4 linked regions of the Homo sapiens genome follow. The protein of the gene in region 1 interacts with the protein of each later gene in a pairwise test. Each region holds a gene or a part of one and is shown in the gene's direction. Other genes may lie near its edges.

Region 1 (7,040 bases):
TTATGCATTTTATGGTTTGCAAATGTCTTTGCTATTTATTGTCCTTTTAATATCTCATCATAACTTTTTGACTTATGTATTACTATCCCCCTTTTCCAGCCTGGGTTGGACTCTCACCTCTGCCACTTAACTTCTGAGACTTCTGAGGTCTTTGTGGAAAAGGAGGTAATTTTTTCTGTCACTTAAAAACAGGCTGGGGGCAGTGGCTCACGCCTGTAATCCCAGCACTTTGGTAGGCTGAGGTGGGCGGATCATAAGGTCAGGAGTTCGAGACCAGCCTGGCCAACATGATGAAACCCTGTCTCTACTAAAAATAAAAAAATTAGCTGGGTGTGATAGCGGGCGCCTGTAATCCCAGCTACTTTGGAGGTTGAGGCAGGAGAATTGCTTGAACCTGGGAGGTGGAGGTTGCAGTGAGCTGAGACCACGCCATTGCACTCCAGCCTGGGCAATAGAGCAAGACTCTGTCTCAAAAAAAAAAAAAAAAAAAAAAACAAGGCTGGGCGCGGTGGCTCATGCCTGTAATCCCAGCACTTTGGGAGGCCAAGGCAGGGAGATCACAAGGTCAGGAGATCGAGACCATCCTGGCTAACATGGTGAAACCCCGTCTTACTAAAAATACAAAAAATTAGCCAGGCATGGTGGTGGGCACCTGTAGTCCCAGCTACTCGGGAGGCTGAGGCAGGAGAACAGCGTGAACTGGGAGGCGGAGCTTGCAGTGAGCCAAGATCATGCCACTGCACTCCATCCTGGGCGACAGAGCAAGACTCCATCTCAAAAAAAAAAAAATAAATAAAAAAAACCAAAAACACCTCCAATGCTCTTTCTCAAATATCATGGCTACCCTTCCTCCTGCTTTACTTCTTTCTTTCTTTTTTTTTTTTTGTGGCAGAGTCTCGCTGTGTCGCCCAGGCTGGAGTGCCATGGCATGATCTCGGCTCACTGCAACCTCTGCCTCCTAGGTTCAAGCGATTCCTGGATAATTTTTTGTATTTTTAGTAGAGATGGGTTATCTCCATGTGGTCAGGCTGGTCTCAAACTACTGACCTCAAGTGATCCGCTCACTTCGGCCTCCCAAAGTGCTGGGATTATAGGAGTGGGCCCAGCTCTAATTTTTGTATTTTTAGTGGAGTCGAGGTTTCACCATGTTGGCCAGGCTGGTCTTGAACTCCTGACCTCAAGTGATCCGCTGGCCTTGGCCTCCCAAAGTGCTGAGATTAGAGGTGTGAGCCACTGCGCCTGGCCTACTTCATCTATTATACAAGTAATGTATACTCATTCAATAAAAAGTCAAGCAAAATGAAAACAAACATCATCCCTAATCCCACCAATGAAGAGTTACTATCCTACCAGCATTTTTCTAAGCATATATACAATTTTAAAAGAAGCACAAAAGAATAATATTGGGATTATGCTGTATATTCAGCTGTACATTCTTTCTTCCATGTTGTATTGTGAGTATATCTTTCTTTACATCACTTAAAATAACCACCTAGTATTTTGTTTTATGGAATACAATATTATTTTGTTGATGAAGTCAAACATTAGATTGAACCATATATCTGACCTTTTTTTAACCTATAAAAATAGCAATTGCCTGAGCTACTTGGGAGGCTGAGGCAGGAGGATCCCTTCAGCACAGGAGTTCGAGGCTGCAGTGAGCTATATAATTATTCCTTTGTTGTGGGACATTTAGGTCATTTCTAAACTTTCACCAGGTTGTGATAAACATCTTTTAGCTCGTTTTTTAAAAAGTATTTTTTATTGAAGTATAATTTTATCATTTTCTTAGAATTCTCAGAATTAGAATTGGTGGGTCAAAGAACAGATACATTTCTAAGGTATTTAATACTTTGCAAAATGCCTTCCAAGAAGATTGAATCAATTGATTTATTCCCACAAACATTATATGAAAGTGCGCATTTCTTTATATTCTACCTTTCACAGTGGGTATTATAATTTAAAGAGTCTGGGCCTGGGTGTGGCAGCTCATGTCTATAATCCCAGCATTTTGGGAGGCTGAGGCAGGAGGACCACTTGAGCTCTGGAGTTCCAGACCAGCCTGGGCAACATAATGAGACCCTGTCTCTACAAAAAGTTACATTAACCAGGTGTAGGGGCTTGTGCCTCTGGTCCCAGCTACTTGGGAGGCTGAGGTGAGAGAATCGCTTGAGCCAGGAGCTCGAGGATGCAGTTAACTGTGATTGTACCAGTGCTCTCCAGCCTGGGTGACAGAGCAAGAGCCTGTCTCAAAAACAAACAAACACACACACAAAACACAAAAAAAGAGTCTGGGAAAAATAGCAATAATAGTTAACATTTATTGAAGTTTTTTTTGGAGATGGAGTCTCAATGTGTTGCCCAGGCTGGAATGCAGTGGTGCAATCTCAGCTCACTGCAACGTCCGCCTCCCAGGCTCAAGCAATTCCCATGCCTCAGCCTCCCAAGTAGCTGGGATTACAGGTGTGCACCACCACACGTGGCTAATTTTTGTATTTTTAGTAGAGACAGGATTTCTCCATGTTGGACAGGCTGCTCTTAAACTCCTGGCCTCACAAGTGATCCAACTGCCTTGGTCTCCCAAAGTGCTGGGATTACAGGTGTGAGCTACTGCACCTGGCCAATGGATCTTATTCTTATCCCAATTTTTTTTTTTTTTTTTGAGATGGAGTCTCTCTCTGTCGTCCAGGCTGGAGTGCAGTGGTGTGACCTCGATTCACCATAACCTCTGCCTCCTGGGTTCAAGCGATTCTCCTGCCTCAGCCTCCCGAGTAACTGGGACTACAGGCCTGTGCCACCATGCCCGGCTAATTTTTAGTAGAGACGGGGTTTCACTATGTTGGCCAGGCTGGTCTCAAACTCCTGACCTCGTAATCCGCCTGCCTCGGCCTCCCAAAGTTCTGGGATTATAGGTGTGAGCCACTGAGCCTGGCCTCTTATCCCTATTTTATTGATGAAGACATTGAGACACAGAGTTTAAGTAACTTTCTTAAGGCCACACAGCTTGTAAGAGGCAGGATGATGACTCAGACCCAGGCAGTGTGACTCTTGAGTTTGCACTCATTACCTCTACACTATATTGCCTCAGTGTATCATTGTTATAATGGAATTTCTTTGATTATAGTGAGGTTAAACATTTTTCGTATATTTACAGGCTACTTAACAACTGTTTGTCTTTTTCTCATGGCTTTTTTGACTGCTGCCATTCTGGGAAAATTTTAAAGCCCAACATTATAGTTAACTTCCTTCATTGTTTCTAAGGGTGAGGTCATGGAGGCTTGGTTTCTGATAAAATCCTCTCCATATTTAGCTTTAGCCTTGTACCTTCAGAAATGGTTATTGTATTTACTTCAGAGTTTCTGTCACCTGAGTCTGGTTTTTTTTCTTTATGGGAGGAAAAGGGCTTTTTTTTCTTAACATTTTGGGGAAATCACCGTGTTTTATCACTGTACCATGGCTGCACTTTTTTAATGACACCAAATACACGTTAGAGCTCCCCAGGTGTTCTTCCATACCTAGGCAGGGAGTAGGGCTTGGATTTTGCTCAGGCCTTGTGTGATTGGCTCAGACTCACATCCTATGTTTACATTCCTGTGTAGAATTTCCAGGCCTAGTGTAATCTCCCAGCCGGAGCAGAAAGAAGAGCCATGGGTCCTACCACTCCAAAACTTTGAGGCGAGGAAGATCCCGAGGGAAAGCCACACAGGTGAGATGTGAGTGCTCCCCAGTGGAAGGAAATCTAGCATTTCAGCCTTGTTTAGATGAAGAATTTGGAATGCTGCCTTAGAATTTTGTTCTTACTAGCAGACATTTTTTTTTTTTTTTTTTTTTTGAGACGGAGTCTCGCTCTGTCGCCCAGGCCGGACTGCGGACTGCAGTGGCGCAATCTCGGCTCACTGCAAGCTCCGCTTCCCGGGTTCACGCCATTCTCCTGCCTCAGCCTCCCGAGTAGCTGGGACTACAGGCGCCCGCCACCGCGCCCGGCTAATTTTTTGTATTTTTAGTAGAGACGGGGTTTCACCTTGTTAGCCAGGATGGTCTCGATCTCCTGACCTCATGATCCACCCGCCTCGGCCTCCCAAAGTGCTGGGATTACAGGCGTGAGCCACCGCGCCCGGCCACTAGCAGACATTTAAATTTGACTTAATGGTCAGTAGTTGACTAAATAAAGTCTTCATTTTGATTAAGCATTTCACTTTTGTCTAACCTATGTTTTTTTTTGAGATGGAGTCTCCCTCTGTCTCCCAGCCTGGAGTGCAGTGACACAATCTCTGCTCACTGCAACCTCCGCCTCCCGGGTTCAAGTGATTGTCCTGCCTCAGCCTCCCAAGTAGCTGGGACTATAGGCACCCGCCACCACGCCCAGCTAATTTTCATATTTTTAGTAGGGATGGAGTTTCACCACGTTGGCCAGGTTGGTCTCGAACTCCCAACCTCAAGTGATCTGCCTGCCTCGGCCTCCCGAAGTGCTGGGATTATAGGCGTGAGCCACCACGCCTGGCCTAAACCTATAATATCTTCTAAAGAAACCGCACAATATTGACAATATGTGGTCTCCGCTTGAAGGATATCAAGATTCATCTGGCCATCTTAAAATTTAAAAAGTTTAGGAATTCACGTGTTCTGACAGCTCAATGAACCTCAATAAACTTTTCACAAAGTGAAAACAGAGCGGTTGAATTAAGTGCAGTCTGCTGCAGAAACAGGGATTTTAATCTTTGTCACTGCTTTCTGATATTCCTTCCTGATAACTGATAACTTTATTCTCTGTTACTTACATTAATTTTTCAGACTGTGAGCATCAGGTGGCAAAGCTCAATCAGGACAATTCTGAAACAGCAGAACAATGTGGAACATCCTCAGAAAGGACCAATAAAGATCTTTCTCATACTCTTAGTTGGGGAGGAAACTGGGAGCAAGGCCTAGAATTAGAAGGGCAACATGGAACCCTTCCAGGAGAGGGCCAGCTGGAGTCCTTTTCACAGGAGAGGGATTTAAACAAGCTCCTGGATGGATATGTAGGAGAGAAGCCTATGTGTGCAGAATGCGGGAAAAGCTTTAACCAGAGTTCCTATCTCATAAGACACCTAAGAACCCACACTGGCGAGAGGCCCTATACGTGCATTGAGTGTGGGAAAGGCTTCAAACAGAGCTCAGACCTTGTCACCCATCGCAGAACACACACAGGAGAGAAGCCCTACCAATGCAAGGGGTGTGAGAAGAAATTCAGCGACAGCTCAACACTCATCAAACATCAGAGAACCCACACAGGGGAGAGACCCTATGAGTGCCCAGAGTGTGGAAAGACTTTTGGGCGGAAGCCACACCTCATAATGCACCAAAGAACCCACACAGGCGAGAAGCCCTACGCGTGCCTGGAATGTCACAAAAGCTTCAGTCGAAGCTCAAATTTCATCACTCACCAGAGGACCCACACAGGGGTGAAGCCTTACAGGTGTAATGACTGTGGGGAGAGTTTTAGCCAGAGCTCGGATTTGATTAAGCACCAACGAACCCACACGGGAGAACGGCCCTTCAAATGCCCGGAGTGCGGGAAGGGCTTCAGAGATAGTTCTCATTTTGTAGCTCACATGAGCACTCATTCAGGAGAGAGGCCTTTCAGTTGTCCTGACTGCCACAAAAGCTTCAGTCAGAGCTCACATTTGGTCACGCACCAAAGAACACACACAGGTGAGAGACCTTTTAAGTGCGAAAACTGTGGGAAAGGATTCGCCGACAGCTCCGCCCTCATTAAGCACCAACGAATCCACACCGGAGAAAGACCCTACAAATGTGGAGAGTGTGGGAAGAGCTTCAATCAGAGCTCCCACTTTATTACCCATCAGCGAATCCACTTAGGAGACAGGCCCTATCGATGTCCTGAGTGTGGCAAGACCTTCAATCAGCGTTCCCATTTCCTCACACACCAGAGAACGCATACAGGAGAAAAACCTTTCCACTGTAGTAAATGTAACAAGAGCTTCCGTCAGAAAGCGCATCTTTTATGCCATCAAAACACCCATTTGATTTAGGAAGTAGTCTTTGGTGTTCAGCTGCTCCCTTGCACATTTTCATTGCTACTGTCTTCAAGCACCCCAAATAGAGAAAACCTGGGCGTCAGTGGCTCAATTTGGGCCCTGATCTATTCTCCCTCTTTCTTGTCTATGTTATAACAGAGAGGATAAACTTAAAGGGTCCAAATAACGGTCCGAATACAAAAGGCATTCCTTCAGTGTGTGACTGACTCTTAGGGAAATGTGAGTTTAATAGTTGATGCCCGCCAGGCGTGGTGGCTCACCCCTGTAATCCCAGCACTTTTGGGAGGCCAAGGTGGGTGGATCACTTGAGGTCAGGAGTTGAGACCAGCCTGGTGAGCATGGTGAAACCTCATCTCTACTAAAAATGCAAAAATTAGCTGGGCATGGTGGCACGTGCCTGTAGTCCCAGCTACTCGGGAGGCCGAGGCAGAAGAATCATTTGAACTCAGAAGGTGCAGGTTGCAGTGAGTTGAGATCATGCCACTGCACTCCAGCCTGGGCAACAGAGAGAGACTCTGTCTCCAAAAAAATTAAAAAGTTGATGCCTAGTTACTAAATGAGAAGTGAGAAAAATGTGGCCTAGAGATCACATGTTCACCACCTAGTACAGTGCCTGGCACAACATAGATGCTCAATAACTAAATGGTCCCATCATTATTAATGATTAATAGTTGAGGTCTTATATAAAGGCTTTAATGCAGTACCTGGCCCTTAAAAGACACTCAGTACAAGATTGGTGGCTTTTATCAGTCTTATTACTCAATTAGAAATTTATTAGTGTAGTCCCCCCGCCCCAAACTCAGAACGTGAAAGAAATTAGATTGGAACTAGAAGGTTTGGGGTTGGAATACACAAATTGAATAAAATGGAAATGCACTGCCAGTTCAGTGCTGTGCAGGCATTAGTCACCAGAGGTCTCACTGCCATGACAAGGCCAAATTATCGTAGAGGATGTTTGCGGTCTTGTGACTTGGAGGCTGAAAGAATTTCAGAAGCTCTTTT
Region 2 (2,719 bases), on another chromosome or scaffold:
TCTGCCCCACCCCTGGTGCTCTCTACCCCTTACCCTGTGGTGTGTCTGGTCCTTCTTGCTCTGCCCCGCCACTCATGGTCGCCCCACTCCAGTGCTGTACCCGGCCCCTTTTGCTCTGTCCCAGCCCCTGTGCTGTGCCCTGTCCCTCTTGCTCTGCTCTTCCCCCTGCACAGTGCTCTGCCCCTCTTGCTCTGCCCCGCCCTCCTGTGCTGTGCCCCGCCCCTCCTGCCCTGCCCTACTCACTGCACTGTGCCCAGCCCCTCCTGCTCTGCCCCGCTCCCGCACCGTGACCGCTCCTCTTGCTCTGCCCTTCCCCCTGCACTGTGCCCCGCCCCTCTTGCTCTGCCCCACCCCCTGTGCTCGGCTTGGGCCCCCAACATTCTGCCGGTCCCCTGGTACTCTACTCCTCCCTCCCGACCTCACGCTTCGCAGCTCCCCCAGTGCTCTGCCTGGCCCCTCTAACTGTCCCTCCACCCAGTGCCTTCAATTGCTCAACCTGGGATCCCCGCTCAGTTGACCTTGCTCCCGCAGGCTAGAGCAGGCTGACCTCATTCTGGCCATGCTGGATGCTTCTGACCTGGCCTCTCCCTCCAGTTGCAACTTCCTGGCCACCGTCGTAGCCTCTGTGGGAGCCCAGAGCCCCAGTGACAGCAGCCAGCGCCTCCTCCTGGTGCTGAACAAGTCGGACCTGCTGTCCCCGGAGGGCCCAGGTCCCGGTCCTGACCTGCCCCCGCACCTGCTGCTGTCCTGTCTGACGGGAGAGGGGCTGGACGGCCTCCTGGAGGCGCTGAGGAAGGAGCTAGCTGCAGTGTGAGCCCCCTCCCACTCCCAGCCTCCCCTGACCCACAGTTTAAGTGTGGGTCCCTCAACTTCAATTTCTGAACCTACAAAATGGGTACAACCATTTCCCCTTCAAGGGATGGTTGTAAAAGGTCGGGAGAGACCATGTCTCTTGTCTCTTCCAGGTGTGGGGACCCGTCCACAGATCCCCCGCTGCTGACCCGAGCAAGGCACCAGCACCACCTCCAGGGTTGCCTGGATGCCCTCGGCCACTACAAGCAGTCAAAAGACCTGGCCCTGGCGGCAGAGGCGCTGCGGGTGGCCCGGGGTCACCTGACCCGGCTCACAGGTGGAGGGGGTACCGAGGAGATCCTGGACATCATCTTCCAGGACTTCTGTGTGGGCAAGTGACGGGATCCAGGGAAGTCGCACCCAAGCTGCGTGGAGACCCAGGAGCCTCGGGGGATCTGGAAACAGTTTAGGCCAATTGGGATTCTCATTCGCCTGGGAAAGAACTTGATTCTCAAATAGTGAAGCAACACAGCTGAGAGGTAGTGAGATCCCTGCAGGGACTCCCTGGAGATTCAGGCCCTGGAATGGGGCTGAATGGAGGTCCCGTTCGACCCTTGATGCTGGGGCATCCGGGTTGGGATGGAGATAGGAGGATCTCAGTATATTTGTTTCGTAGTTTTTTATTTATTTTGCAAATACCAAAGGAATGTAAAAAAAACTCAGGTGATCTAGAAGTGTTTATTTTCTTCCCTTCCCTTCCCTTCCCTTTCCTTTTCCCTTTCCCTTTCCCCTTCCCCTTCCCCTTCCCCTTCCCCTACCCTTCCCTCCTCTGTCTATTGCCCAGGCTGGAGTGCAGTGGTGCGACCTTGGCTCACTGCAACCTCCATCTCCGGGGCTCAAGCGCTTCTCCTGCCTCAGCCTCCTGAGTAGCTGGGATTACAGGCATGTGCCAGCATGCCCGGCTAATTTTTTTCTTTTTTTGAGACAGAGTCTCGCTCTGTCACCCAGGCTGGAGTTCAGTGGTGCGACCTCGGCTTACTGCAACCTCCACCTCCCGGGTTCAAGTGATTCTCCTGCCTCAGCCTCTTGAGTAGCTGGGACTACAGGCGCACACCACCACGCCAGGCTAATTTTTGTATTTTTAGTAGAGACAAGGTTTCACCATGTTGACCAGGCTGGTCTTGAACTCCTTGACCTCAGGTAATCTGCCTACCTTGGCCTCCCAAAGTGCTGGGATCACAGGCGTGAGCTATCACACCTGGCCCCAGAAGTGTTTCAACATGGAAATTTTCCTTAGCCCTTCTGTGGTTGTCATGGCTTAATGTGTGTCTTTCCAGAACTTTGAATGTTTGCATACTTGTGGATGTACCTTTCAAATATGTTTGTCTTGTGTATCATATATAAATGGTATTGTGTTCATTGCTCTACAAATTGTCATTTCTTTTTAAAAAAAAAACAGAATTATGGAGATGGGGGGTCTCACTATGTTGCCCAGGCTGGTCTTGAGCTCTTGGACTCAAGCCATCCTGCTGTCTTGGCCTCCCAAAGTGCTGGGATTACAGGTGTGAGCCACGGTGCCTGGCCTCATTCCTTTTTTAGTCTTTAGTCTTCTTTTTTTTTTTTTTTTTTTTTGATGGGGTTTCACTGTGTTAGCCAGGCTGGTCTTGATCTCCTGACCTTGTGATCTGCCCACCTGTGGCCTCCCAAAGTGTGTGTGTGTGTGTGTGTGTGTGTGTGTGTGTGTGTGTGTGTGTGACAGAGTCTTGCTCTGTTGCCCAGACTGAAGTGCAGTGGTGTGATCTCAGCTCACTGCAGCCTCTGCCTCCTGAGCTCAAGCCATTCTCGTGCCTCAGCCTCCCGAGCAGCTGGGATCATAGGTGTACCCTACCACACCTGGCTAACTTTTGTATTTTTAGTAGAGATGGGT
Region 3 (5,811 bases), on another chromosome or scaffold:
CATGCAGATGAGAAGCAGGGAGGCCCCAGGACGGAGTAGGGACCAGCAAGGATGCCTGGGAGGGAGTGGCCAGTAGGCTGGGGGACACCAGGCGAGTATGGTGGCCCAACAACCACTTGAGAAGGGGGCTGCAGTCAATGCCCTGGCCGGCTGGCTTGCCAGCTGCTGAGAGACCAGGTCAGAGGGCCAAGGAGAGGCATTGGGATTTGGGGAACTGGAGGTCGGTGGTGGAGTGGAGCGGTGGTTCCAGACACAGGCCACCCTTCTAAGGAGTGTGGCTCTAACAGGAGGACAGGAGGACATGGGCTCGGGACAGGAGGTGCTTCTTAACGTGACAAGGCCAGGCCCCTTACCTAAGTGGACACTAGTCCTGGGGCCCTCTCTGCAGGGTTGGTGCACATGAGGAAACTAAGGCATGGCCAGCTTGAGTGGTTTCCCAGGTGACCCAGGTGGTGTCTCGCAGACGGAGCCAGAACTCAACCTCGGGACTCCGACTCCAGCAGCCCCGGGCCCTGGGTGGCCAGAGTGCTTGCCTCCACCTGTTCGCTCTGCCAGAGTGTCCCGTGAGCATTTCCTCCCCGAGCCAGCAGCTGCGGCTGCTCAGGAAAGGCTCCCAGCTGTCCCAGAGCTGGCCACCTCAGACATGGACAGCCCAGGGGCTTGGGTACTCAGCCAGGTGCCCCAGGGGCTATGGGCATGGCACCGGCTTCCCAGTGGCAGCCACTCCTGGCTGTGGCTGGTGGGGCTCAGTGGCAGACCTGGGCTGGCTGGGCAGTGCCTGCAGCCCTCTGGTGCCAGGGGCAGCCGGTCGACTGGGGTCATACAAGGGGTCAGTTCTCAGCTCTCAGGCAGCCGTGCTGTTCTGTTCCTAGGAGGCCCAGGGAGGCACTGAGAGGGGTTTGGCGACTCCGACGCCCTCCACCGTGTAGGCCAAGTTGGGGGCACCAGCCTTCAGTGAGGGAGGCTCCAGGGCCGTGGTGGGGGGACAGAAAGGTGCCTGTGTCAGAGACAGCCTTGCCTGGACAGCAGGATGCCTGGTGCTGGCTGGGTTGGGACTGTGGCCAGCCCTTGCCAGGAGCAGCCATGGGGCAGCTCAGGTGGGTCACTGGGCCTCCGGGCCACCCCAGGGCTAGCTGTCAGAGCCCTCGCAGTGGGGACCCCGGAGGGGCGGGAATGCAAGCCCCAAACACAGGCACATGCAACAGAGATTTTCAGTGGCGAAGCCACACCCCTTGAGTCCTACTGTTTGCATCTGTTTTCAGCTCAGGAGGCTGAGCCAGCGCCCGCCTGGGCCTGAGGTCACACACCTGCCCAGTCCCTGCCCAGCCCTGCAGCCACACTGTTTCCAAACCACACTCTGGGAAGAGGGTTGTGAGCAGCAAGTCTGAAGTGCGGGGTGGAAGGTGCTGGGGGTTCATCCTGCCTCCCATTCCTGCCTGGCACTCCCACCCCGTCATCTTTGGAAGGACGCCGAGAGCCTGAGGGACAGGGACAGGGAGACCAGGCCTGCTCTACGAGCCTGGGGGAGCTCAGGGCCATTGGGGCTCCTTCTTCTACCACTGCCCCCCACCTTGTGGGAGGTTCCCATCTTGGCAGTGCTCAAGGGCACCAGCTAGGGCAGCGGCAGGGCCCTCCATGCTCCGGCAGCCCCAGGTCAGAAAGAGGCTCTCATTTTGCAGGCAAGAGTGTGGAGGCCAGAGAGGGCCGGAGCCAGCAGTGGGTCCTTGTCCTGCTGAGCGCACAGCAGGCCCTGTGCACACCACTGCCCCCGCTGGCCACTTGGCGCTGGTCAGGGCGGCGGGGCCTTGGCTGGGGTGAATGGCGCCAAACGCCTTCTCTTGTCTTTTAGGAGCTCTATAGGAAGGACTGCAATCTAGCGGCCCAGCTGCTGCAGTGCAGCCAGACCTACGGCAGGGTCCACAAGGTGTCTGAGGTAACGTGGCCCCGCAGCCAGGCCCACCCCGCCCCGGGACCACCGGGCTCCTTTTGTGCCAGTGCTACCCCAAAGCCATTTCCCATCTTTGAGGAGGAAGATGCCAGCTGAGCCTGAGCCTCCTCTGTCCCCCTCGCTCCTGTGGGGTCATGACATTGGAGGGGCCGCCAAAGGCACCCCACCTCACGCAGCCGGGCAGCCCCTGGCCCTCACCAGAGTCCCTTTGGCCCACCCCGGCTGCTGGTTGCCCTCGGTTTCCTTTGGGGGGCTGCTCCAGGTCCTTGCTTCCACTGAGCGCTGACACGGCAGAGTGACCTTTGTGGAGCTTCGCAGGAGCCTGTGGCTGGGCACGATGACCGGCAGTGCCTATTTCAGAAAGAAAACATTCAGGAAAGAGGGCGTGGCTGAGGCCACGTGGCAGGCAGGTAGCAGAGCCAGGACCCAGAACCAGGCCTGTCTGATGCCAAGGGCAGATGGGCCAGAGGCCCACCCCTGCCCGCCTATGGTCGCCGCACCCTGCGCACCCCGTCCCCCGACCCTCCCCTCACATGCAATCTCCCAGCCAGGCCTGTGCGTTCCTTTCCCCTGGTCCTGGGCCATGCCTGAGACACTCACAAAATAGATCAAACAGTAGCGGGACACCCCCACATGGCACCAGGCGCTCTCAGCCCTGGCCCTCAATCTTTGTTGCATCTGAGTCTGTCTTCTTCAGGAGCGCTCCAGCAGCATGACTGGGGGGCTGGGGAGTGGGTCATGCCCCCAGTAGAACCCACAGAACCCACGGGCCTGGGAGAGCAAGTCAACCCCTCGCTGGGCACAAAATGGGTGGGGTGGGGGTGGCGGGGGGTGGAGCCTTGAGTGGGGCCTGAATCAGACCTGGGTTCCGGCTTCTCCAGGCGACTGCAGCTTCTGGGCTCTCCTGGGCCCAATCAGAGTGGGGTGGGGAGAGGTGACCCAGGATCCCCAGGCAGTCACAGCACCCACACCCCTGGGAGCTTGTTCAGTACAGCGTCCTGGATCCAGGCTCCCCCTGGTGTGATTTGAGAAGCCGGGAGGCCCCCGTTCGTCTGTCTGCCTGTCGGTCATGGCTAACATCAGTCCTCAGCTTCAGGGCCAGGGCTGGGCTGCCATGCTAACAGTGACCCTGTACCCGCCGTCCCCCTCCTCGCACCCGTTCCAGCTGCCCTCGGATTTCCAGGAGCGCGTGAGCCTGCACATGGAGAAGCACGGCTGCAGCCTGCCATCCCCGCTCTGCCACCCGGCCTACGCCGACAGCGTCCCCACCTGCGTCATTGCCAAGGTGCTGGAGAAGCCGGACCCCGCCAGCCTGTCCTCCCGCCTGTCCGATGCCTCCGCCCGCGACCTGGCCTTCTGCGACGGGGTGGAGAAACCAGGCCCGCGGCCCCCCTACAAGGGAGACATCTACTGCAGTGACACAGCCCTCTACTGCCCGGAGGAGCGGCGGCGAGACCGGCGGCCTAGCGTGGACGCGCCCGTGACCGACGTGGGCTTCCTGCGGGCCCAGAACTCCACTGACAGCGCGGCCGAGGAGGAGGAGGAGGCCGAGGCGGCGGCCTTCCCGGCGGGCTTCCAGCATGAGGCCTTCCCCAGCTACGCAGGCTCACTGCCCACGTCCAGCTCCTACTCCAGCTTCAGCGCCACGTCGGAGGAGAAGGAGCACGCGCAGGCCAGCACGCTGACCGCGTCGCAGCAGGCCATCTACCTGAACAGCCGCGACGAGCTCTTCGACCGCAAGCCACCCGCCACCACCTACGAGGGCAGCCCTCGCTTTGCCAAGGCCACGGCCGCGGTGGCGGCCCCGCTGGAGGCCGAAGTGGCCCCAGGCTTCGGGCGGACCATGTCACCGTACCCGGCCGAGACCTTCCGCTTCCCGGCCTCTCCGGGTCCCCAGCAGGCCCTGATGCCCCCAAACCTGTGGAGCCTGCGGGCCAAGCCGGGGACCGCCCGGCTCCCCGGGGAGGACATGAGGGGCCAGTGGCGTCCCCTGAGCGTGGAGGACATCGGCGCCTACTCCTACCCCGTGAGCGCTGCCGGCCGCGCCTCACCCTGCAGCTTCTCTGAACGCTACTACGGCGGGGCCGGGGGCAGCCCGGGCAAGAAGGCCGACGGCCGCGCCAGCCCGCTCTACGCCAGCTACAAGGCCGACAGCTTCTCCGAGGGGGACGACCTCTCCCAGGGCCACCTGGCAGAGCCCTGCTTCCTGCGGGCGGGCGGCGACCTGAGCCTCAGTCCCGGCCGCTCGGCTGACCCACTGCCCGGCTATGCACCCAGCGAGGGGGGGGACGGGGACAGGCTCGGGGTGCAGCTGTGTGGGACCGCCAGCAGCCCTGAGCCCGAGCAGGGTTCCAGGGACTCCTTGGAGCCGAGCTCCATGGAGGCCTCCCCGGAAATGCATCCTGCCGCCCGCCTCAGCCCCCAGCAGGCCTTTCCGCGGACTGGTGGCTCGGGGCTGAGCCGCAAGGACAGCCTCACCAAGGCCCAGCTCTACGGAACCTTGCTCAACTGAGCGCCTGCGTGCAGGCCTGGCCGTGGTTCGCTCCCCGCCAGCCCACGTGCCCCAGAAGGGCCGGCCTCACCTCTCCCCAGCCCCCGCTGTTCCCCTGCCCCGGCCAACAACGAGGAGTCTGTTCCTCCCCGCACCTCCTCTCCTCCCCAGCCCTGTAGGCCTGAGGGGAGGGTCCCCCACACCACGGTGTCCACCCGGCCCCGGCCCGTGGAACTCCACTTAGAGCGTTTTTCACGCGTCCTTCCCCCATGTGAGAGGAGCATCCCCCCTTTTATAAAGCGAAACTATTTTTATAGAGAAAAAGGGTCTTTCTTAACGCACTTGGCCTCCAGCTCCCTGGACGGCTGCCTTGGCGTTTTCAACACAAAGCTCCTTTATTTTTTGGGCGAGGGTGCGTGGGGCCTGCCCCTTGGAAGGGAAGGGAAGGACGGTGTCCTGTGGAGACCAGACTCTGCAAGTGGGGAGACCACCCCCGCAAGCCAGTGACAAGGGAGCCCTGAAGTTGTGTCCACGAAGAGGGAGCTGAAACAAATTCGGGGCTATGAAGTGTTTTAAAAATCCATTCTTCGCAGTGTGGCCACCACACCGCCCTGAGCCCTCCCACGGCCCATCGTCCCGGGTGGGCCGGGATGATGCCCCAGTGCGGCCGGTGCTCATCTCCGCCCCCGGGTCCGCCCCCTGACACCGTCTTACTCTACCTCAGACATGAGGAGGCCCTCCATTCCTGGTTTCTGTAGCTTGCATTCTTGTTGTCTCTGATGCATGCCCTGCCAGTTAGTACTGTATTTTGCATTCATTAATAAAAGACACCGGTGGAAAGAATCTGGGTTGGGCTGTTTCTCCTCCTCCTGCCTTTTGGTCTCGGGAACCTGGGGTCCCTGGTGTCCCTCCCCAGCCTTGCTCTCTGCAGCCGAGTTGGGCCCCTTAACCCCACTTCACACCCCATCCCCATAACACCCCGTCCCCACCCCGCCATCCAAGTTCCTATCTAGGGTGTGGATTCTCCTGCTTCTCCCAACCCACTGGAGACAACAGCTCTTTCATCCCATTCTCCTGCGCGCTGCCCCACCGATTTCCTGGCCCCTAATCCTCGTGTCTCAGACTTGGCTTCTGCTCCTTGAGATGTACTGGGGCCACGGATGGAATGTCGGCAGGTGGCCTTTTCCCGGGCACACGGGATGCTGCCGCTCTGCTCTGTCTTCCTGTTGGTATTGGGAACTGGCTGTCAGTCCCGGAGCCGCTCCATTGGTTAGAAAAAAAAAATTGCTTTCTTTTCCCCGGCTCTTTAAGATTTTCTCTTTGACTTTGGCTTTCTGCAGTTTCCCTGAGGTGTGTCTGGGTGTGGAGTTCC
Region 4 (7,265 bases), on another chromosome or scaffold:
TTTTAATTTTCATAAATCTTTTGAATGTCTGGCATAATAGAAGACTGTGAAATACTCATATCTGCTTTTGCATTCAGTCTGTTTCAATGTTATTTTGGTTGAAGAATATGAAGAAAATTCAGCCTCCCACAGATGTGTATTTGGAAAAAGGGAGAAATATATTCATAACTTTTTCAGATAATTGTGGATATTCTTTGATGCTATCAAAACTCTGCTAAAGGTTAGTTGCAATGTGGAACCTCAAAGTATATTAGTGAACTTTTTATATTCCATTAATATTTATTGGTTTATTTTGCACTTTTTTTTTTTCTTTTTAGGGATGGGGGTCTCGCTATATTGCCCAGGCTAGTCTCGAACTCCTGGGCTCAAGTGATCCACCTGCCTCAGCCTTTCAAAGTGCCAGGATTACAGGCGTGAGCCACTGCACCTGGCCTTATTTTGCACTTTGAATGGATCTTTTACTAATGTGTGATTTTGTAGTGTCATGCATTGGTCATTTGGAAAACACTGCACATCTCCTAAATGTTGACACATTATACAGTATCAAAAAATCATATTTATTTATTTTTATTTTTATTTTATTTTATTTTATTTTTTGAGATGGAGTCTCGTTCTGTCGCCCAGGCTGGAGTGCAGTGGCACCATCTCGGCTCACTGCAAGCTCCGCCTCCCAGGTTCAAGCAATTCTCCTGCCTCAGCCTCCCGGGTAGCTGGGACTAAGGCACATGCCGCCATACCCAGCTAATTTTTTTTGTATTTTGAGTAGAGATGGGGTTTCACTGTGTTGCGCAGGCTGGTCTTGAACTCCTGAGCTCAGGCAATCCGCTCACCTCGGCCTCCCAAAGTGCCAGGATTACAGGCATGAGCCACCGTGCCCGGACTTATTTTAGTTTTGTGAGACAGAGTCTTGCTCTGTTGCCCAGGCTGGAGGGCAGTGCCATGATCTCGGCTCACTGCAACCTCTGCCTCCCTGGTTCAAGCAATTCTTGTGTCTCAGCCTCCTGAGTAGCTGGTATTACAGGCATGCGCCACCATGCCCAGCTAATTTTTTTATTTTTAGTAGAGATGGGGTTTCGCCATGTTGGCCAGACTGGTCTCGAACTCCTGGCCTGAAATGATTTGCCCACCTTGACCTCCCAAAGTGTTGGGATTACAGGCATGAGCCACCGTGCCTGGCCCACTACCAGTCTTATTAGAAAAAGTCATGGGAAGCTATCAAACTTACATTGGGAGATACAAGTCAGTTGTTAGAAATTCTGTTTGACTTAAATGCTTGAGTTTTATCAGGCCGGGTGCGGTGGCTCACGCCTGTAATCCTAGCACTTTGGGAAGCTGAGGCGGGCAGACTGCCTGAGCTCAGGAGTTCAAGACCAGCCTGGGCAACATGGCGAAACCCTGTCTCTACTAAAATACAAAAAATTAGCTGGGCGTTAGTGGCGTGTGCCTGTGGTGCCAGCTACTCAGGAGGCTGAGGCAGGAGAATTGCTTGAACCTGGGAGGCAGAGGTTGCAGTGAGCTGAGATCACGCCACTCCACTCCAGCCTGGGTAACAGAGTGAGACTCCGTCTCCAAAAATAAAAATAAAGGCTTGAGTTTTATCATAACCGACAATGCTATCAGGCTCTACTTTATTTTTAAGAACATGTCTGCCAAATATCCAGTGAACAACTAGTCTGTTAGCTGTTCTTTCAAATAAAAACGGTGTTCCATGAAGAAAGCTATTAATTCAGCTCCAAACTCAAATTGCAAGAGTGCTTTTCCTCAAGACAAATGTTGTACTTAAAAGTGCTTGATGCATACATACATGCATTTAATCACATAAACGTGTACTTAAATAAAACAATTTTTATTGTCTTCATCAAAGACCTCTTAAATGAAACAGGTGGTTTTTTTTTTTTTTTTTTTTGAGACAGTGTCGCACTCTGTTGCCTAGGCTGGAGTGCAGTGGTGCGATCTCGGCTCACTGAAACCTCTGCCTCCCAGGTTCAAGTGATTCTCCTGCCTCAGCTTCCCGAGTAGCTGGGATTACAGGTGCGTGCCACCACGCCCAGCTAATTTCTGTATTTTTAGTAGAGAGAGGGGTTTCACCATGTTGGCCAGGCTGGTCTCGAATTCCTGACCTCAAGTGATCCACCTGCCTTGGCCTCCCAAAGTGTTGGGATTACAGGTGTGAGCCACTGCACCCATCCGGCCTGAAACAGGTGTTTTTTTACTGTAGCAGTGAAGAATACCTTGACCTCTAGCACAACTTGGTGCAGTTGCCTTGATTTGTGCTAAGGCAGCAGTTTTACCCATTGCTACTTTTGTATCATTGTGCAAATATCATCACAGTGACAATGCAGATATGTCTCAGTATTATTAGGAAAATCGTTTTGATCTCAGGCACCCCACTATCCCCCCAGCCCAAAGGGTCTCAGAGATCCCTAGGCCTTTCCAGGCGACACTTTTTTTTTTTTTTTTTTTTTTTTGAGATGGAGTCTCACTCCGTTGCCAGGCTGGAGTGCTGTGGCACGATCTCAGCTCACTGCAACCTCCAACTCCCTGGTTCAAGCAATTCTCCTGCCTCAGCCTCCTGAGTAGCTGGGATTACAGGCACACGCCACCACGTCCGGATAATTTTTGTATTTTTAGTAGAGACGGAGTTTCACCATGTTGGCCAGGCTGGTCTTGATCTCCTGACCTCATGATCCACCTGCCTTGGCCTCCCAAAGTGCTGGGATTACAGGCGTGAGCCACCGTGCCCGGCCTCCAGGCCACATTTTTGAGAACACTGATCTAATACATGCTCACATCACTGAGAAACTTTTCCTCCTGTATTGCTATTCTGGGAGCATCCCTTCCATTGGAAGTTTTAAGTGGCTCCCAAATTCTTCACTCAGCAAAAGCACCTTGTTATGGAACTAACATTGAATAAGTAACAATCTTTCTTCTCCAAGAATTTTCTTGGGGATTGTTGAGTAAGGGAATAAGACATATAATTAGAGTTATAATGTTAAGAATTCCTTAAAAAGAATTATGTTAACTGTGATGGACGACAAAGGGAGAGCTAAATTCTGAATCTAACTCTGAGGCCTTGAACCTCATGATAAATCCCGACCAAACCAAATTGAAACACTCCACTTCCTCTCCTTCTATCAAACCTCTTTTAAAAGTGCAAGTTGTTAATAAATTGCCTACACAGCGCTTGGTCCAGGCATTGTAGTTTCCCCCTTCCTATTGTGTGTGGTGTTCTTTTTTTTTTTTTTGTGCTTACCTAGTTCTCCTGTTTACAGGTGTGTAACTTGAGCCACTACTATAGCTAATGTCTGTTTCTTTTACTTGTCCTTATATTTAAATGTAAGTCTTTATCTGCCTTAGCTATGTGTTGGGTGTTGAAATTGTTGATCTTATTTTGGGAGACTCCCATCCCCTCCCCCCACTACCACCCCGCAAGTAGTTTCAAGACAGTGCACCTAGGAGACTGCTTAACCTAAGCCTTTTGTAGCTTAGGTGCTGTTCTGTTTCCCAATGGACCACTACCAAGTCAGTCTGGTTTATTTCCCAAGCCTTACAATCTGCTGAACTTCTTCAGTTCCGGCAGCGATCCTCTAACTTGTGGGGGATTTCCATAAAACAGCTGAATCTCTCTTGGGTCATCTGTGGCAAAAGCCAGACACGTGCTCACCCGCCTGGGAGCCAATAGTAACTTTTGCAAACGCTGCCTCCGGAAACCCCACGGTTTGAGGGCTGCTGCTTTAGGAACAACACAGAAATAACGTCTTTTAACAGAATAAAACAAAACATACGGACGGGATAGTGAGAAAGCCTTTGTCCTTCGCAGTGGGGAGAGGTGTTAAAGGTGAACCGAAAAGAGTATGGGAAACTCATGTAAAATACCTTTACAGTTCCCCGGGAAGAAGGGGGCGGAGATGGGCTCGGGAGCGTCTCTGGCCCTTTAAGGAGGAGGGACAGACATAAGAGTCTGTACCTTTAAGAGTCTCTTTGTCTGGAAACCTTCTTATTTACCCTCCTGTGCTTCAACCAAACTTCGACCAGCTATTCACAACGTCCCCCTACGCCGCCGCCCCTTACGCCAGGCTCAAAGCGGCCGCGCGTTTGTGGCTGACCCTAAACTTTGCGCCTGCGGCGCGAACCCTCGGAACGGGTGCCGGTGCCGGGGTCGCGGCCCAGCGCTGCGCCGTTGGCGCAATGCAGGGCCTGAGGGGCGGGGCTCCAGCGGGCGGGCCAATAGACGGGCAGGGGGCGGGGCCGTGTTCGGTTGTCTCGCGCCCTGGTGACAGCTCGCGCGTGCTGATGATGGCGGTAAATAGAGGGGGCCGGGGGAGGGGACGGAGGAGGTGGGGAGGCAGCAAAGTGGGTAGCTCCAGGGGGTAGGGGGAACGGGGGCCGGGGAGGCCGCGACGGCCAGGGAGCCCATTCTAAGACTCGGAGGCGGGGATAGGAGTCTCCGGCTCACTAGCCCTCCCCTTTAAAGAAGCAAAATCCTCACACACCGGGTGAGGGGCGACAAAGGCAGCGCGCGCCTCGCGGGCGGGAGGAGCGGCGGCAGGGGGCGGGACCGCGGCGCCGGCGGGCTGGGGGCGCCCGGGGCGGGGGCGGCGGGAGGCGAGAGCCGGGAGTCGGGGCGCGCGGGCGCCTTATTTTGGCGGGGTGGGCGACGGCTGGGTTGGGGCAAAAGCGTTGAAGGGAGAGGGAAAGGAAGGCTTGGAGGCGATGAGGGGAACCGGGTTGAGAATGAGATGAGGAGGATTAAGGGGAGAAAGGGTTAGAAGCCAGGGAGAGGAGGAGTGAGAAAAAGCCAGCCAAGGAGATAGGAAGGAGGCAAAAGCCAGGGTGGGCGTTAAGGAAGCCGGGCAGGGAATGAGGTTAGGGCTGGGGAAAGGGATCCTGGGGTTAGGTGTAAGAGCAGGGGTTTGAAGGGGAAATCTTCGTAGCGGGTGGTGTTGGGGTGAGGGGTACCGGGGTAAGTGTTGGAAGTGGAAGACAAGGAGGGGCAGAGCTGGGGTAATAGTTGGGAGTAGGAAAGAGAGAGTGATTAAGAGCCAGACGTGACGAGGGTGTGAACTAGTGCGGAGCGAGATGAGCTGAAGGACTGGGACCAACGGTGTGGTGGGAACTGCTGGCGAGGTTCTGAGAAAGGAATGGGTTAGTGGGTGGGCGATGGATGTAAATTCTGTAAAGTGAGGGAGGGCAAATGAGACCTGGACTGGAACCAGGTGGAGTCAGGAATAAGAGTGTGGTGGAAGGGCGAAAGGAAACAGATAAGAGATGGGTGTCTGTAGGACGATTCTGGGACCAGAAGAGCTGAAAGGAGACTAGAGTTAGGGTGTAAGAAGTGATGGCCATCTGGGACAAGGATAACTGGGTAATTACGTTAATTGAAGAGGTTCAGCAAGATCCAAGGTGAAAACAGTGAGGTAAAGAGACAGGGCTAAAAGCAAATGGTGAGAGGAGCAGGAAGAGATGGGCCCCAGAATTTAAAGGATGAGATGGGGAGTAAGGGAAGAGAGGGGGCTAAGAGAAGCTGGGGGAGTCCTGATGGATGTAGAACTGGGGTAGACTGCAGGGGGGTGGGAATCGAATGTGCGTGTTATGGGGAGTTGCTCCAGAAGGTCTGCAAGGGTCAGGGCAGAAATGCTGTAGTGAAAGATCAAGTGTAAGAGAGCCTTTGGTGCAGAAGACGAGGAACCATGGTGAGTGAAAGGGGACCTAGAGACAGGGGTAAAGACTAAAAAGTAAGGGCAGAGGTGGGGGGTGCAGGAAAGGAATTCTTTGTTGAGGAGAGAACTGTGTGTTGAAACTGTGAATCCTTTTGTCCCTAAAAGTAGGAAATTCCAGAAACCTCTTTCTCTCAAGAAATCTTGAATCTGCTTCCACCCTTCATTGCTTTTGATTTGACTTTCCTGTCCACTTTGAAGAAATGAGACTCATTTTGATTTGATTTTTTTCTTGTATGGATGATAAAGTATAAACTCTGGGTGTTGAAAACCTCTGCATTTCACTAGTGTTGTGATAATTCGGGGAAAGGGTGTGCTTATTTAGGGTGTACTCGTGTGATGTGATAGTTTTAGTGTTGTAGGAGTGTTGCACCTGACAAGTGCTGGGCTGTGTTTTATGGACAGCATTTTCATTTTCAATGGAGAACGCACTGTTGTTGGGATAGAGAAAGATGAGAATCTGTTTCTTTTGATTAATCAACCAGATTTCTGCTTATTGTTTTCAGTTGCTGGAGAATGTTAAGAAATCATTTCAGAGAAAGGCAGATAACCAACCAAGGAAGTTTACTGGGGGAGAGATTAAATCAGAGCTGAGGGCTTTGAGTTCCTGAGCTGCCTTTAGCTTTGTGCGGGACGTTTCATGCTGTAGTTGGTAACTCACCCATTTAACAAAATGGCATAAAGAAAGGGAGAATTGTAGAGTAGTGGAGGATTTTAGAGTAGCAGACTTATTTTTTAGGGCAAATAAATTTATGAGTAATTTTGATGGAAAAACATCTCTGTAAGATAATACTGCAGCAAGCTTGGTCTTTGGACAGCTCCACTGCCTTTCGTGTTTTATGGTTATGAATAAAGAAGGCCAGATTAATACTAATTTTCTAGAAGCTTTTGATTTTTAAGACACCTTTAGAAATGAAAAGGAAGATAAGAAATTTGGGGCAAAATTTGGTTATTCTTACTTAGAATTTTGTTTTAATGATTTTTTTCAGAAGCTTTTACATTTAGCTAAGAATATGAATGAATATTTGTTTTGCATTTGATGGTGCCAAAGGATAGCATATGATTTACTTAGGGAAAAATTCAAACAATTGTTGAGAATCTTCTTTGGGGTTATTTCATTGTGTACACTCAGATGCACAAAGATACTTTTTTTTTCAAAGTTGGGTAAATTTTGGATTGACACTTTTGCTGGTGTTTGTATAAATAACAAAGATTAGGTTTATGACTTTTGTAGTAGTTAACAAAGATTAGATTTTGATTTGTGGATTTGAGCAACAATGGTTAATGTATAATTTAGAAAACTCTTTCTGCATTCAGCTACTGTGTTAGTGGCATAGTATTTAGTTTATGGTTTGTTTCCTGGATTGTATTAAGCAAGTGTTCAAGGTTACTAGATGTATTTAGCAATTTAACAGAGGATCTTGGTAAAAATTACTATTTTTGCCACTACATTTTAAAAGGATTAGTTTGATAATGTTGACTTTCAAGATGAAGAATAACTTTGATATGAGGCACTTGTTTCAGTGAGATGTGTGTGCATATTCTTTT

What was found.
Region 2: the proteins of ZNF774 (region 1) and GTPBP3 interact in binary tests that used the Homo sapiens proteins (3 or more experiments, as listed by UniProt).
Region 3: the proteins of ZNF774 (region 1) and BEGAIN interact in binary tests that used the Homo sapiens proteins (3 or more experiments, as listed by UniProt).
Region 4: the proteins of ZNF774 (region 1) and USP49 interact in binary tests that used the Homo sapiens proteins (3 or more experiments, as listed by UniProt).

The regions. Positions count from the first base shown.
Region 1 is NC_000015.10:90,355,252-90,362,291, forward strand, and holds part of ZNF774 (zinc finger protein 774), read left to right. Parts: intron 1-3,599; coding exon 3,600-3,706; intron 3,707-4,791; coding exon 4,792-6,032; 3' UTR 6,033-7,040.
Region 2 is NC_000019.10:17,340,513-17,343,231, forward strand, and holds the end of GTPBP3 (5-taurinomethyluridine-[tRNA] synthase subunit GTPB3, mitochondrial), read left to right. Parts: intron 1-531; coding exon 532-810; intron 811-965; coding exon 966-1,191; 3' UTR 1,192-2,219; downstream 2,220-2,719. UniProt on the Homo sapiens protein: GTPase component of the GTPBP3-MTO1 complex that catalyzes the 5-taurinomethyluridine (taum(5)U) modification at the 34th wobble position (U34) of mitochondrial tRNAs (mt-tRNAs), which plays a role in mt-tRNA decoding and mitochondrial translation.
Region 3 is NC_000014.9:100,536,618-100,542,428, reverse strand, and holds the end of BEGAIN (brain-enriched guanylate kinase-associated protein), read left to right. Parts: exon of another isoform or gene 1-1,849; coding exon 1,850-1,933; exon of another isoform or gene 1,934-2,299; intron 2,300-2,809; exon of another isoform or gene 2,810-3,113; coding exon 3,114-4,460; 3' UTR 4,461-5,282; downstream 5,283-5,811. UniProt on the Homo sapiens protein: May sustain the structure of the postsynaptic density (PSD).
Region 4 is NC_000006.12:41,892,361-41,899,625, reverse strand, and holds the start of USP49 (ubiquitin carboxyl-terminal hydrolase 49), read left to right. Parts: upstream 1-4,250; 5' UTR 4,251-4,302; intron 4,303-4,487; exon of another isoform or gene 4,488-4,496; intron 4,497-7,265. UniProt on the Homo sapiens protein: Deubiquitinase that plays a role in several cellular processes including transcriptional regulation, cell cycle progression or innate immunity.